Linked DNA regions of Homo sapiens: region 1 is linked to region 2. A link means that fine-mapping ties the variant in region 2 to the expression of a gene that starts in the linked region. Tissue or cell type: iPS cells. Region 2 holds a variant in brackets; the other region holds the start of a gene. All regions are shown on one strand. Distances are between the middles of the regions.

The links. PIP is the estimated chance that this variant, and not a neighbour inherited with it, causes the effect.
Region 1: GFM1 starts here. The variant in region 2 is fine-mapped to the expression of GFM1 in iPS cells (PhLiPS, PIP 0.95).

What each region holds. Positions count from the first base shown.
Region 1 is chr3:158,642,432-158,647,431 of GRCh38, reverse strand. GFM1 (G elongation factor mitochondrial 1) reads right to left here and starts at 2,905. Exons shown (of 18, transcript NM_024996.7): 1 at 2,717-2,905; 2 at 1,651-1,803; 3 at 1,135-1,267; 4 at 485-689. The coding sequence starts at 2,797.
Region 2 is chr3:158,560,863-158,569,116 of GRCh38, reverse strand. It overlaps MLF1-DT (MLF1 divergent transcript), which reads left to right. Exons shown (of 5, transcript NR_104147.1): 2 at 1,061-1,157; 3 at 7,612-7,720. Among named protein-coding and RNA genes, the nearest start is that of MLF1-DT, 6.1 kb to the left of the region's middle. The variant C/T (reference allele first, on the strand shown) is at 4,343.

The DNA.
Region 1 (5,000 bases), 80 kb before region 2:
GGTTCTATCTGGTACAGAAAGGAAGTGTTACTGTTGTCCTAGAAAATATGTTTCCGTCTGAAAACAAGAAAATCTCATCTCTATGGCAAACTACTTAAGGGCATTAATTAAAATGCTTCAAGGAAAAATTAAAACCAAAGATGATCTTTTGTCTAAATAAAACACAAGGTATTTTTAGAATCTAGATTATAACTTCTCTCATAATAGCAAAACAGTATAAACGGTCAGACTGTTTTCTGAATTCATCTTCAACCTCCCTAGAATTTAAGTAATATTGTCCCCATTTTAGAGATAAGGTAGTTGATGAGATCATACCACAAGCCAATTTACTAAAATCAGTGTTCCACTTACTAACTCACATAAATATATTTAAAAAACTAAATTTAAGAATAAAGTTTAATGACAGTGAATTAATCACCCTTTTGGATATAAGGTTTGCTGTCTAGATCATCACATCCTCTTTGTTTATTCTAAGGCTCATTACCTCATTTGCTGCAGGGCCCTGGCTGGGTTGGAGCCCATTCGGTCCAATTTGTTAATAAAAGTTAGAAACGGAACGTTGTAGCGCTTCATCTGACGATTGACAGTCATGGTCTGGCACTGTACCCCTCCAACAGCACAGAGAACAAGGACTGCACCATCCAACACTCTCAGGGCCCTTTCCACTTCTATTGTGAAGTCCACATGCCCTGAATAAGATGAAGTATGAGAGGGTCTTAAAGAGCAATCTGAATTTTTAATATATGCACTATTAGAAGTTTTTGTATCTCTGCTCATCACATAAGTCTTCTAATAAGAATGTAGATTCCTGAGCTCACCAATACTATTCACCAACCCTTAGGTGCAGGGCCTGGCAAGATCACTTCAAGAAAATACTAGGGCACAGGCACCTTTAGAATCAGCTAGAATATGTAAAAGGCAAGAATCTGCCTACTCACAATTTACTTGCACAAATTTTCAAGAAAACTACATAAGGATGAAGTGCTCTAGGTCCTAAGTTAGTCTTCTTTAATAGGAATTCAGTGTTACACTTTTGAGTATTTGACAATCAAAAACTAATTGGGTCACAGTAAGAGAAAGAACCAAATGTGCTTTTGCCAAAGAAGCTGCAATAAAACCAAGAATCCAACTCACCAGGAGTATCTATAATGTTAATATTGACATCTTTCCACATGGTGTAAGTGGCTGCTGACTGAATAGTGATTCCTCTTTGTCTCTCTAGTTCCATGGAATCCATGACAGCACCAACTCCATCTTTACCTTTCACCTAAACACAAGCACAGCAATTCAGACTTTCTCTGTCCCTGCATTCCAAGAAGGAAAGAAATCTTAACTGAAATGGAAACAGTTGCCAGGTGCAGTGGCTCATGCCTATAATCCCAGCACTGTGGGAGACTGAGGCAGGATGATAATTTGAGCCCAAGAGTTTGAGACCAGCCTGAGCAACAAAGTGAGACCTCTTCTATAAAAAATAAAAATAAAACCAGAACACAGATACTTAACTTAAGCAACTTTCAGATAAGCCTAACTGTCAAAAGTCCGCTGTTACCATTGTTTTAATCTTTCAGGTTTATAAGCTTTATTAAATAATAGCAACAAAACAATTAAAATCTGGTTCTAATTAATCCGGAATCAACCGTGAATATATACCTCATGCATCTTTGCAATTCTGCCAGTGTAGTAAAGGACTCGTTCTGTTAATGTAGTTTTCCCAGAATCAATGTGAGCTGAGATTCCAATATTTCGTATTTTTTCATTAGGAATCACCCCTGATGAAGACCATCGGCAGGCCTTCCAATTAACCTGAAAAAAATACGAGAGCTCAATTCTATGCACCTTTTATAAGAGAGAACAACAGACAATTAAAAGGAGTATGGTGGACATTATTCCTCCAAGAAATCTCACTGGATATGAGATAGCTTGAGAAAGGCACCAGGGGAAACCTTTAAGCCTGGAACTCTTGTAATCAGAGGACAGACTTCAAAACAAGACAGTAAAGACGTATTCTTTTAAAATTAATTAATGAATAAGTTAAATTTAATTAAAATGGGAGACACTTTTTACTGCAGATTTGAAAATACACACTGGGGCAGATAAAATCACAAAGACAGCTCCAAAAAATACTTTAATAGAAAATACAAATTTTAGCTTAAATTTAACTTAATTTTTTTCCCTTTCTCCTTTATTGTAGTTCACAGATGACAAATATGTTTGAGAACTTATATGCTCTATGCAGTGATGCTAGTAGCTCCAAGACAGCCCCCAAAGATTTCCAATTCCCTCCAAACAAAAACAATTCATGAAGCTTGTTTTAACTTTACTCTGGTGGCAGGGGATGGGGATCCCTATTAGATGGAATGAAGATACAATATAAACCTTTCCCTATAGGACTGCACATCCAAAATGCACAATTATTCACGGGAAAAGAGAGGCAAAAAAAAAAAAAAAAAACCTTAGAAAAGGTGGATAAAATATCAAAGTATCTGAGTGACAGACACTTTTAGTTGATTAAACCCTAGGGATACCAGAGAGCGAAACAAACGAGCTAACGAGCTAATGTGCAGGCACCGAGGTGCTTTTCAGCACTGACGAGCGACTGCCAGTATTCGGAGCTGTCAGTCATGAGGACCCAGGGGGTGTCACGGCCTTCCATTGCCCAGAAGGGATCACAAGGTTCCGGGAATGGTCCCGATTTAGCCTCTCTATGCTCCGGTACCTGCTTCCTCTGCCAGCCTAGGGAGGCGGGGGCCCTTCCGCGCCCCAGAGCCGCGACGGCTGCAGCTCCCAGGAGTCTCATGGCAAGCGCAGAGCACGCGTCAAAGTCCCGTGGCGCCGGGTGGGTTCAGCTGCCGGTAACGCACCGGGAAGCGGTCAAAGTCACGCCGGCAGCCAATGTTGTAAGAGCACTTCCGGGGCAAAGGACGCGAGGAAAAAGAGAGTGAGGAAAAGAAAGAAGAGCAACTGGATTGGAGGCGGAGCAGTGCCTACGCTGCTCGCGCGCCGTCTGCCGACTTGGAAGAGAAAGTGCAATCGCTTTGCGGAGCTAAAGAAGTGTTTGCTCCCAGTAAGACGGCATAGGTATATGGGTGAGGGAAGGGAGTCCTTTTGTCTTCGTCTTCTTTTTTAAATATTACCTCTGTATGAAGATACAGAATTTAAACATGGTTGTTAGGCCTATAAAGCAATGTGGAGAAATGTATATAACAATTTAAGTAGAAAAGAGCAAAATTGTCTATTACAAATATTAATAGGTATATATATGACATGGCCTGAAAAAGAACGTGGACAAATTATAGTGAATGAACTATCAATTACAATTACAAATACTTTTCCTCATGTCAAAATGTTATTTGTTATTGTTCGATGTCAGACATTTCATGTCCTGTCCATGTGGAAGACTGCATCCTTGACCATTCTGCTTGGATGTGTTAAGAGGCATGTTGAACCTAACAGGTCCAAAACTGAGCTTCGGATCTTCTTCCCCAAACCTTCCACAGTCTTATCCATCTCATAAATGTAAACTTTAGTGATTCTAGCCAAAAATATTAGTCGCTTTGACACCATGCTGTGACATCTCCGGTCTAATCAGTCAGCATATCCTGTAAGCTCTACTTTCAAAAAGACATCCAGGGCCGGACGCGGTGGCTCACACCTGTAGTCCCAGCACTTTGGAAGGCCGAGGCGGGCAGATCACGAGGTCATGAGATGGAGACCATCCTGGCTAACACAGTGAAACCCCGTCTCTACTAAAAATACAAAAAAAAATTAGCCGGGCGCGGTGGCGGGCGCCTGTAGTCCCAGCTACTCGGGAGGCTGAGGCAGGAGAATGGTGTGAACCCAGGAGGCGGAGCTTGCAGTGAGCCGAGATCACGCCACTGCACTCCACCCTGGGTGACAGAGCGAGTCTCAAAAAAAAAAAAAAAAAAAGAAAATCCAGAACTTACTTCTCCCCACCTCTCAGTACTGCCGTTTCTGGAGGGAACTATTGTAATAGCCTTGTAACCGATCTCACTGCTTCTATCCTTGCTGTTGTCAGTGGGCCGGTTCAGGTGCTTGACTTCACCACACAAAAGAATTTGAAAGCAAGTACAAAGTAAGAGTAGGCAAAAAAGTTTATTGTAAACCAAAAGTACACTCTGAGAGGCAGAGTGGGCTGCTCAGAAGAGAGACAGACAGCCTTTAGTATCTCTAGGGAATTCCCTTTATGGGTGAGGCAGGAGAACAGGGTCTAGAGACAGGGAACCGAAGGCCCTGCTGACTTCCTAGAGCTGAACCAAAAGGAAAACCCCACCTCTCCATGCCCAAGTAACAAAAGGATCGGAGGCTACTCCCAATGCACTGCATTGCAGATGAAAAAATGGAAAGTACCTCTGACTGGTCCCCTCTGGCAAATAATCAGACTGGTAGCAGGCCAAGTCCTCATGTGTAACTTTGTAACTTCACTTCAGCCTCTGATTGGTCACCTCCTGCAACCAAGCAGGCTGGTTATGGGCCACTCCTTCATTTACATAGGGTGTAACCAATGGGAACGCTCTAGAGGGTATTTAAATCCCAGAAAATTCTGTAACAGGTGCTCTTGAGCTGTGGAGTGTACTTTTGTTTCAACACATCTGTGCCTTCATTGCTCCATTCTTTCATTGCTTTGCTTATGTGTTTTGTCCAATTCTTTGTTCAAACGCCAAGAACCTGTATGACTCATAGTCAAGACCCTTCACTGGTAACATGGGAGCTGTACATATATATTCATAAAATACTGGTAAGGTCAAGTATGCAAAGGTGGACCTGTGGTTGGCACAGGTACTTGGCATCTACATGTTCTAACACAGGAGTCCCCAACCTCTGGGCCAGAGACCAGTATCAGTCCATGGCCTGTTAGGAACCAGGCCACACAGTAGGAGGTAAGCAGTGGGCGAGCGAGTGAAGTTTCATCTGTATTTACACCCTCTCCTTATCACTTGTATTACCACCTGAGCTCTGCCTCCTGTCAGATTAGCAGTGGC
Region 2 (8,254 bases):
TGTATAGATGATGCATTCAAGACACAGAGAAGCTGAATAAATTGCCAAGGTTCACACAGCTAGTAATTGAACTGAGCTGGGTACCTGGAGCTTTCCTCTGTGAGTGCTGGTTATATGGTATGTGAGTGATGAGTCATACTTAAAGATGCAGGATGAAAGCGGGTAATCATTTTTCAAAATCATGCTGACAAGCTAAATGGACCCAAACTAAAAAGTACAAAATTCAGTGGGAATATATTCACATCACATAAATTCAATTCTACAAATATTTATTGAGTGACTACCCAGTGTTGGGGACTGATCTACGACCTTAGGCATCATTGAACAAAACGGACAAAAATCTCTGCCTTCCCGGAGTTTATGTTCTTGTAAGGACAGACTCAAAATAAACAAAATAGAAAATAGTATATTGTAAGGTGATAAGTGTTAGGGAGAAAAGCTGATCAGGGTAAGGAGTATGGAGAGGTGCAATTATAAATAGCAAGTTTTGTGTACGCCTCACTAAGGGGAATTTGAGCAAAGACCCACAGGAAGGAAGTGGATGTCTAGTGGAAAAGCATTCCAGGGCAGTGCTAAAGTAGCATTTGCCTGGTGTATATAATGTACAGTCCTACTCATATGCCTTAAAACTCACCTTCTGAGTGAGGAATGAGATGAGCCAAGTAAACTGAAAATTGCCTAATAGGGTAATAGCTCTCATTTACACTTCATATATTCCAAGGATTGCACTAAGTGCTTCACATATGTTTTCTCGTTTAACCTTTACAGCAACCATGTCTAATATTATGTTTATCCCTAAATTGCATTAAAAAAAGCTGGGACCCAGATAAATTTGATAATTGAATTTTGATAATTGATTTGAAAGTTGATAATTTGATTAAATTTTGATGATTGAAATTTGATGTCACTCAATTCAAACCCAGATTTGTCTTACCCCAAAGCCTGTATCCTCACCACCATCCGTACTTTGCCTCCCTATTTTAAAAATTAACTATTTATGGAGCAAATATTTGCAGTAAACACTTTTACATCTATAATCTGTAACTACACTGTTGCTTAGGTTTCATTTGGAAGGACACTGACTAAGGAAAAACAGAGAAAAGGATGAAACCCAAGCCAACTCTGCAACTCTATTAAAAACACCAAGACTTCAATATGTAAGTGATTTCGTGTTTCTTTCATTAATTTATCAAATACTTATTAAGGACTAGTAATATCCCAGACATTATTCTAGACACTGAGGTTACAAAACTCCCTGGCCTTTCGGAACTTACATCCTAGTGGACAACTCTTTCCCCAGCTAATTTTACAAATACTGTTACAGCACCTCAGAATTTTCATAATGTTTCTGAAGACATTATCTCAAGTGCCCAAAAGAAAATAAACAGGCTCTTGAGTGCTGAACTTTTAACTTAATTATAGCTTTCCAGAGCCGTGAATATTAGGCCATTACAAACACCTTTACCACAATTAAGCTCAATGTGTCTAGGGTTTCGTTGTCCTAATCCCTTTGTCTTAAACAGTGCACAGAGGTCCTCTGAGAATGAGATGCCATAGCAAACTCACAAGGGGCTATGGGACAAATTTTGAGAGAAACTTGGCATGTGTTAGACATTGTTCAATGTACTAGTTTAGGGCAGTTCACATATTTCAATATTAGATTGCACTACATTGTTTTAGATGATGTCATATCATTGGAAAGGTAGGTTTCTGAAAGTTACTATGATGAAAATGAAGTACCTGTCAATGTGGAACAGGAAAGATTGGTGGCAACATTCAGTCTGTTTCTAAAGTTTGAAAAATTGTGCTGTGCTAGGCGGGCACCCATCTGTTAGTATGATTATTTAAGAATTATACAAAAATATGTTTCTTTCAATTTATGTGCATTATTTTTTAAAGGTACTGAGTTTTTAGGTCAGAAATACGCTGTTTGTATCTAAATTATACAATAACGGACCTATTCAGTATTTCTTTAAACCTAGGGGGCACAATGAAAAAATTACTGAGGAACTAAGGGCTCATGAACTAAGATAGTTTGGGGACCTCTGTCTAATCCCACAATCTTTCTTCAAATTAAAAAGAAATGTAAAATATCATGCATTCCTTTTCTAAAAAATATGTTTCATTTTATTTTTCATGTTTATCTTCTTTACAGTCAGCTGACTTACCAGTCCTCTAACAGTTTTGCTTTATATCTTTTTGAAAGATGGGAAAATGGTGCATACCGATTAAGTGACCTGTAAGAGCATAGATCCCAAGGTCTTCAAACTCCCAGTAGGGCTGCCTCTAGTCCATAATGGCATCTTTGCTCAAATTAGAAAAAGTGCCTCCCTCTCATGATACTTCCATTAATGAGAAATTTGTCTTAATAAATAGACAAGGCTGTAATGTATATGATTTGACTGGTGCTCGCTTAGGTGTTGTATACATGTCCATGGCAGCGCTGTTCCTAATCTTGAATTCTTTCCGCTACATAGGAGTTAATTGAGTGCCAAGCTTCATCCCCAAACTCCCAAACTCATGTGCAAGAAATGTAATTTTATTTTCCTGCAATCAACCTTAATTTATCTTCTGGGCTTACATTCCACTGGGAGTCACTCCCATTTCCTCTTCCACGGAGACAATGCCAAGGTGTAGTTGGTTGCTAGCCATGCTGCATTCCTGAAGTCATCTTTATTGCCCTCACTGGGTAGGGCCAAGGGTACTAAACATCTCACTATGTGTGGCACGGTCTGGCACAATGAATCGTCCTTCCCTAAATACCAATAGCAGTCCTCTCCTTTTAAGAAATACACTCTCTAGAGCAAATATTTCCTCCAGCGAAGTAAAAATTTAACGAAGAATTGAGTTAACAAAGGAAAAAAGTGGCAGACTTTTAAAGTTATATTTACTTTTACAGCTTTTATCTGTAGATGTGTATGCCTATGACTAGTGGTTTATTTTGCACAAATTATAATTGAGGCATATTTTATTTTGAAAACTGTTGAGTAAATACCACTTTTGGGGGGTTGGTAACAAGAGATTGGCTTTAGTGAAAAGATACTAGAGGCAAGAAGCTGGGGCTCTGGGCCCTGGACTTGGGTCCTAGAATTCAGGTGGTAGTGAGGGAGTATGTAAGAATTCAGGTGGTAGTGAGGGTGTATGTAAGCAGAGGAATGTTCTGTTTCAGTGATGGATGGGCAGAGTGGGTGAGGATGACAGAAAAATCTGGAGAGGAAATCAAGATCCGCTATTGGGTCAGGGCTGAGCCAAAGATTATAGTGTTTAATAAGCATAAGCAAAAGTTTTGGCCTTTCCCTCATTTCTTTGATGTACATCTTTGAGGCTTGGTTACTTAGGGATGTATTTCATAATCTTTTAAAAATAATCCTTTACTTTCTTTTTTTGTTTTGTTTTTTTTGGGGTGGAGTCTCACTGTGTCACCTAGGCTGGAGTGCAGTGGCGCGATCTCGGCTCACTGCAAGCTCCGCCTCCCGGGTTCCCTGCCTCAGCCTCCCGAGTAGCTGGGACTACAGGCGCCCGCCACCGTGCCCGCCTAACTTTTTTTGTATTTTTTGGTAGAGACGGGGTTTCATCGTGTTAGCCAGGATGGTCTCGATCTCCTGACCTCGTGATCCGCCCGCCTTGGCCTCCCAAAGTGCTGGGATTACAGGCGTGAGCCACCGCGCCCGGCCTAATCCTTTACTTTCTACCATAAAGACACATACACATGTATGTTCATTGCAGCACTATTTACAGTAGCAAAAACATGGACTCAGCCTAAATACCCATAAATGATGGACTAGATAAAGAAAATTTGGTACATATACACAATGGAATACTACACAGCCATAAAAAAGAATGAGGTGACGTCCTTTGCAGCAACATGAATCCAGCTGGAGGTCATTATCCTAAGGTGATTAATGTAGGAAGAGAAAATCAAATACTGCATGTTCTCACTTATAAGTGGGAGCTAAACATGAAATAAACGTGGACACAAGAGAACAATAGACACTGGGGCCCACTTGAGGTGGGAAGGTGGAAGGAGGGTGAGTACCTACTGGATACTATGCTTATTACCTGGGAGATAAAATAATTTGTACAACAAACCCCTGTGACACACAATTTATCCATGTAACAAACATGTACCCCACGAACATAAAAGTTGAAAAGAATAAATGAAATAAAATAATGATTTAGATAAGTGCTAATTTCTATTCAGTAATAGTTCCTGTTTAAAAAGTATCTACTGGGCTGAGCGCGGTGGCTCATGCCTATAGTCCCAGCACTTTGGGAGGCCGAGTTGGGCGGATCACAAGGTCAGGAGTTCGAGACTAGCCTGGCCAACAATAGGGTGAAACCC[C/T]GTCTCTACTAAAAATACAAAAATTAGCCGAGTATGGTGGCGCATGCCTGTAGTCCCAGCTACTTGGGAGGCTGAGGGAGAAGAATCGCTTGAACCCGGGTGGCGGAGGTTGCAGTGAGCCGAGATCATGACACTGCCCTCCAGCCTGGGCGACAGAGCAAGACTCCATCGCAAAAAAAAAAAAAAAAAAAAAAAAAACCAAGAGAAACAAAGTATCTACCAAGAGTTTTGTAAACTTTTATCCCAACTAATTCTCTCAATAATGCTATGAGGGAGGCATTATTTACATTTTGTGTGTGCGAACACAGAGGTTCAGGTAGGGGAAATGATTTTTAGCTTGCAAGGTTCAACTATAAATGGTCTTCTAGCTGGTGAGTGGTTTAATGTGAATTCTGATCCAGACCTGACCGTTTTGAAGGCCGTTCCCTTCTCACTGCACCCATAGCCAACTCTCATGATAACGAAAAAGGACTTGATGGTGTGGAATTACATAAATGTAAAGCTTCTGGGAGTATCCAAACTTAGGTTGTTTGGTTTAAGTACATAAAGAAGTTTTTCAATTTTCCTGAAAAACAAAACAAACAACACTGAAACTATCATTCAATGAATAAAATAAAGGCTCTTACTCTAAAGACAAATAATTTGAATGGCAATGTCAAATACAAATATACCAATTTTTTTTGGTGACAAAACTCCAACTTTCCACACAGCCCGTAATGGATTCATGTGCAGTTGATGAATGAAAGTCCACATCCAAAGCTTGCTTAGTCTTTACAATTTACGTTTTAAATTGAGGTATAACTTAAACATGGTAAAGTCTACTAAACTTCAATGTATAGCTCAATAGCTTTTTACATATGTGCAAACCTATGTAAACAACACCCAGTTGAAGATATAAAGCATTTCCAATACTCAAGAAAATTCCCTTGTGTCCCTTTCCCATCCATGTCCCTCTAGGGTAACCACTATTCTGAGATTTGTTTCTTTCACTTAACATTATGTCTGCAAAATTCATCCTTGTCATTGCTGTCATTGCATGTAGCAGCAGTTTATTCTTTTTCTTTGTTGTATTCTAGCATATGAATTTGCCACAAGTAATTTACCCATCTACTGTTGATGGATTTTTTGATTGTTCTTTTTTTTGGCTTAAAAAATAAGGCACTATGATCATGCTTGTGTTTTTCCTGATTAAGTTTTAAAAATCAACTTACATTCAGCTATTCTTGAATCTTTATTGTCATTGAAATTCTGAAACTTTTTTTCTACAGACAATAATTTTATAAGAAAGATTTTTCTATTGAGTCAACACCTTGATAGTTGCTACTGTCTTAGAAACACTTCTTTTAAAAAATAAAAAATCTTAGAATTACAGAGCCTAAAACAAGTTGAATAGTAGAAAGCACTCTTCAGAAAATACTGTTGAGGTCATCTGTTCTCAGGAACACTTTAATGTGGCTATCTAGAGTGTTATTTTTAAATCCTTGATAAGATTTGAAGAGAGTTCACACTGTAGTTTGGAGGCCCCACTGCCAAGGCAATCAATTGAAGTCTGTCCAGAGGACAAGTAAATTATTTTGGAAAACATTAAGGACCTGGAATACCTTCATCTCTTTGTCATATGCTTAGATGTCTTTACTATTTGAAATGGTAGGAATAATCACAGAAGAATTGTTTTTAATTTCAAGAAGCTAGAAAGGACACAATAGTCATTATAAGGCCATGTAAGTTTTAATGCCATTTGTGATATATATTCTGGGGTAACAAGGTAAAGGGGAGCTAGGGAATTGAGAATGAGTGGCTCCAACCTATACCTGATTTCCTCCCAATTCATATCTCCCAAAGACCTAGAAATTCCCCTGGGAAACAGCCTCCAGGAAGGCTCACACTGCTGAATGGCACTGGCAGCCTGTTGGGAGAAATAAGACAGCCAAGGCCAGAGGTTGTCGGGCGGGGTCGGGGTGGGGGCGGGGCGGGGTGGAGAATGTTGGGGTCTGCTGTAGGTTGTTAATAATAAAAGCTAAAACCTATGTACTAGGCACATTAATTCACATGTTTTTTTTTTCTTCAACTCCTACTTTAAGTTCCAGGGTACATGTGCAGGATGTGCAGGTTTGTTAAATAGGTAAACGTGTGCCATGGTGGTCTGCTGCACAAATCAACCCACCACCTAGGTATTAAGCCCAGCATCCACTAGCTATTCTTCCTGATGCTCTCCCTCCCCTCCTCCCAGTGTGTGTTGTTGCCCCCAACGTGTCCATGTGTTCTTATCGTTCAGCTCCCACTTATAAGTGAGAACATGTGTTGTCTGTTTTCCTGTTCCTGCAATTCACAACAGTTTTATTACTATTTTACATAAGCGAACACAGGTTTTAGAGAATTAACTAATTTGCAAAAGGCAGTATTGCTGGAAAGTGGAAGAACTGGGATTGGAACTCACGCTGTCTGACTGTAGAATCTGGGCTCTTAATCACTGAGTATAACCTCAGCTGGCCCCACTCACTGCCTAACACACAGGAGACTAGCTGTCTTCTTTACCTCCAGTTGAGGGTAGGGCTTTACCTAGAGTTGGAGTCAAAAACACGAACACCAATAGGGATCAGACAAGTAAAAATGTGAGGCAAGTGAACTAGGTAAGATGATAAGGAGAATAAGAATTAATAATAATAATAATGCCAGGCACAGTGGATCACACCTATAATCCCAGCACTTTGGGAGGCCGAGGTGGGCAGATCACCTGAGGTTGGGAGTTTGAGACCAGCGTGACCAAAATGGAGAAACCCCGTCTCTACTGAAGATTAAAAAACAAACAAACAAACAAAAAAAACAAACAAAAAAAAAAACAACTAGCTGGACATGGTGGTGCATGCCTGTAATCCCAGCTACTTGGGAGACTGAGGCAGGAGAATTGCTTGAACCCGGGAGGTGGAGGTTGCAGTGAGCCGAGATCATACCATTGCACTCCAGCCTGGGCAACAAGAGCGAAACTCCATCTCAAACAAACAGACAAACAAACAAACAAACAAAAAAAGAGTTAATAATAATAATAATAATAACTAACATTTGTTGAGTTTCTACTGTGTGCCAAGCACTGCTCTAAGTGCTTTACAAATTTTAACTCCCTTAATCCCCCAGGTGATCTAATGAGATAAACACTATAAGTATGCCCATTGTGTATAAGAGGATGATACAGGTCAGAGAAGAAAAACTGCTTGCTCAAGGTCACACAGCCAGAGGACCCTAGCTCTTATCACTGTGCTGTATATTCACAGGAACCTGGCATGGTGGGCACAGTCGGGCACTGCAGGCGGCTTGCCTCCAGCAGAAGGAATACTGCTACTCAGCTCTAGATGATTGCCCTGAAGAAATTCATGCCCACTGGTAATATGGAATTGTATATGAAATCTAATTTTTTAAAGTTAACAACTAATTAAAAAGAAAATAGCAGGCCAAACAAATCTTTCGGTGAACCTGGCCCATAGGCTGCAAGCCTATGATCTAGTTAGAGTGAGTTTTCATGGCATGAAAGAGACACATGATCCTGGTAACATTCACATACTGCCTTTTGAGTGTAACTCAAAACTATGTTGATGGCAGGTCTTGTGTTGTGAGAGCTGAGAAGCAAAGTGCCCTGACTCCTAGCAGTAGGCCTTTGTGAGTGGACACCAGTTACCAACCATATCAGTGAAGGGTCATATTTTAAAATTCCAGGGCCATGAGACAGTTGTTTTATTTCTGCAGGATATTTAGATTACAGATTAATTTTTTCATTTGGACCACAAAAGGTTAGCACAGCTTTATCAGGTTCTGTGTATTATATTACTGTTTTAATTCTCTTTAGTCAGTCTTAAAATAGATTGACATCATTTTGGTCTCTGCTTTAAAGTGCCTGCCTTTCAATTTCTTATTTATGAA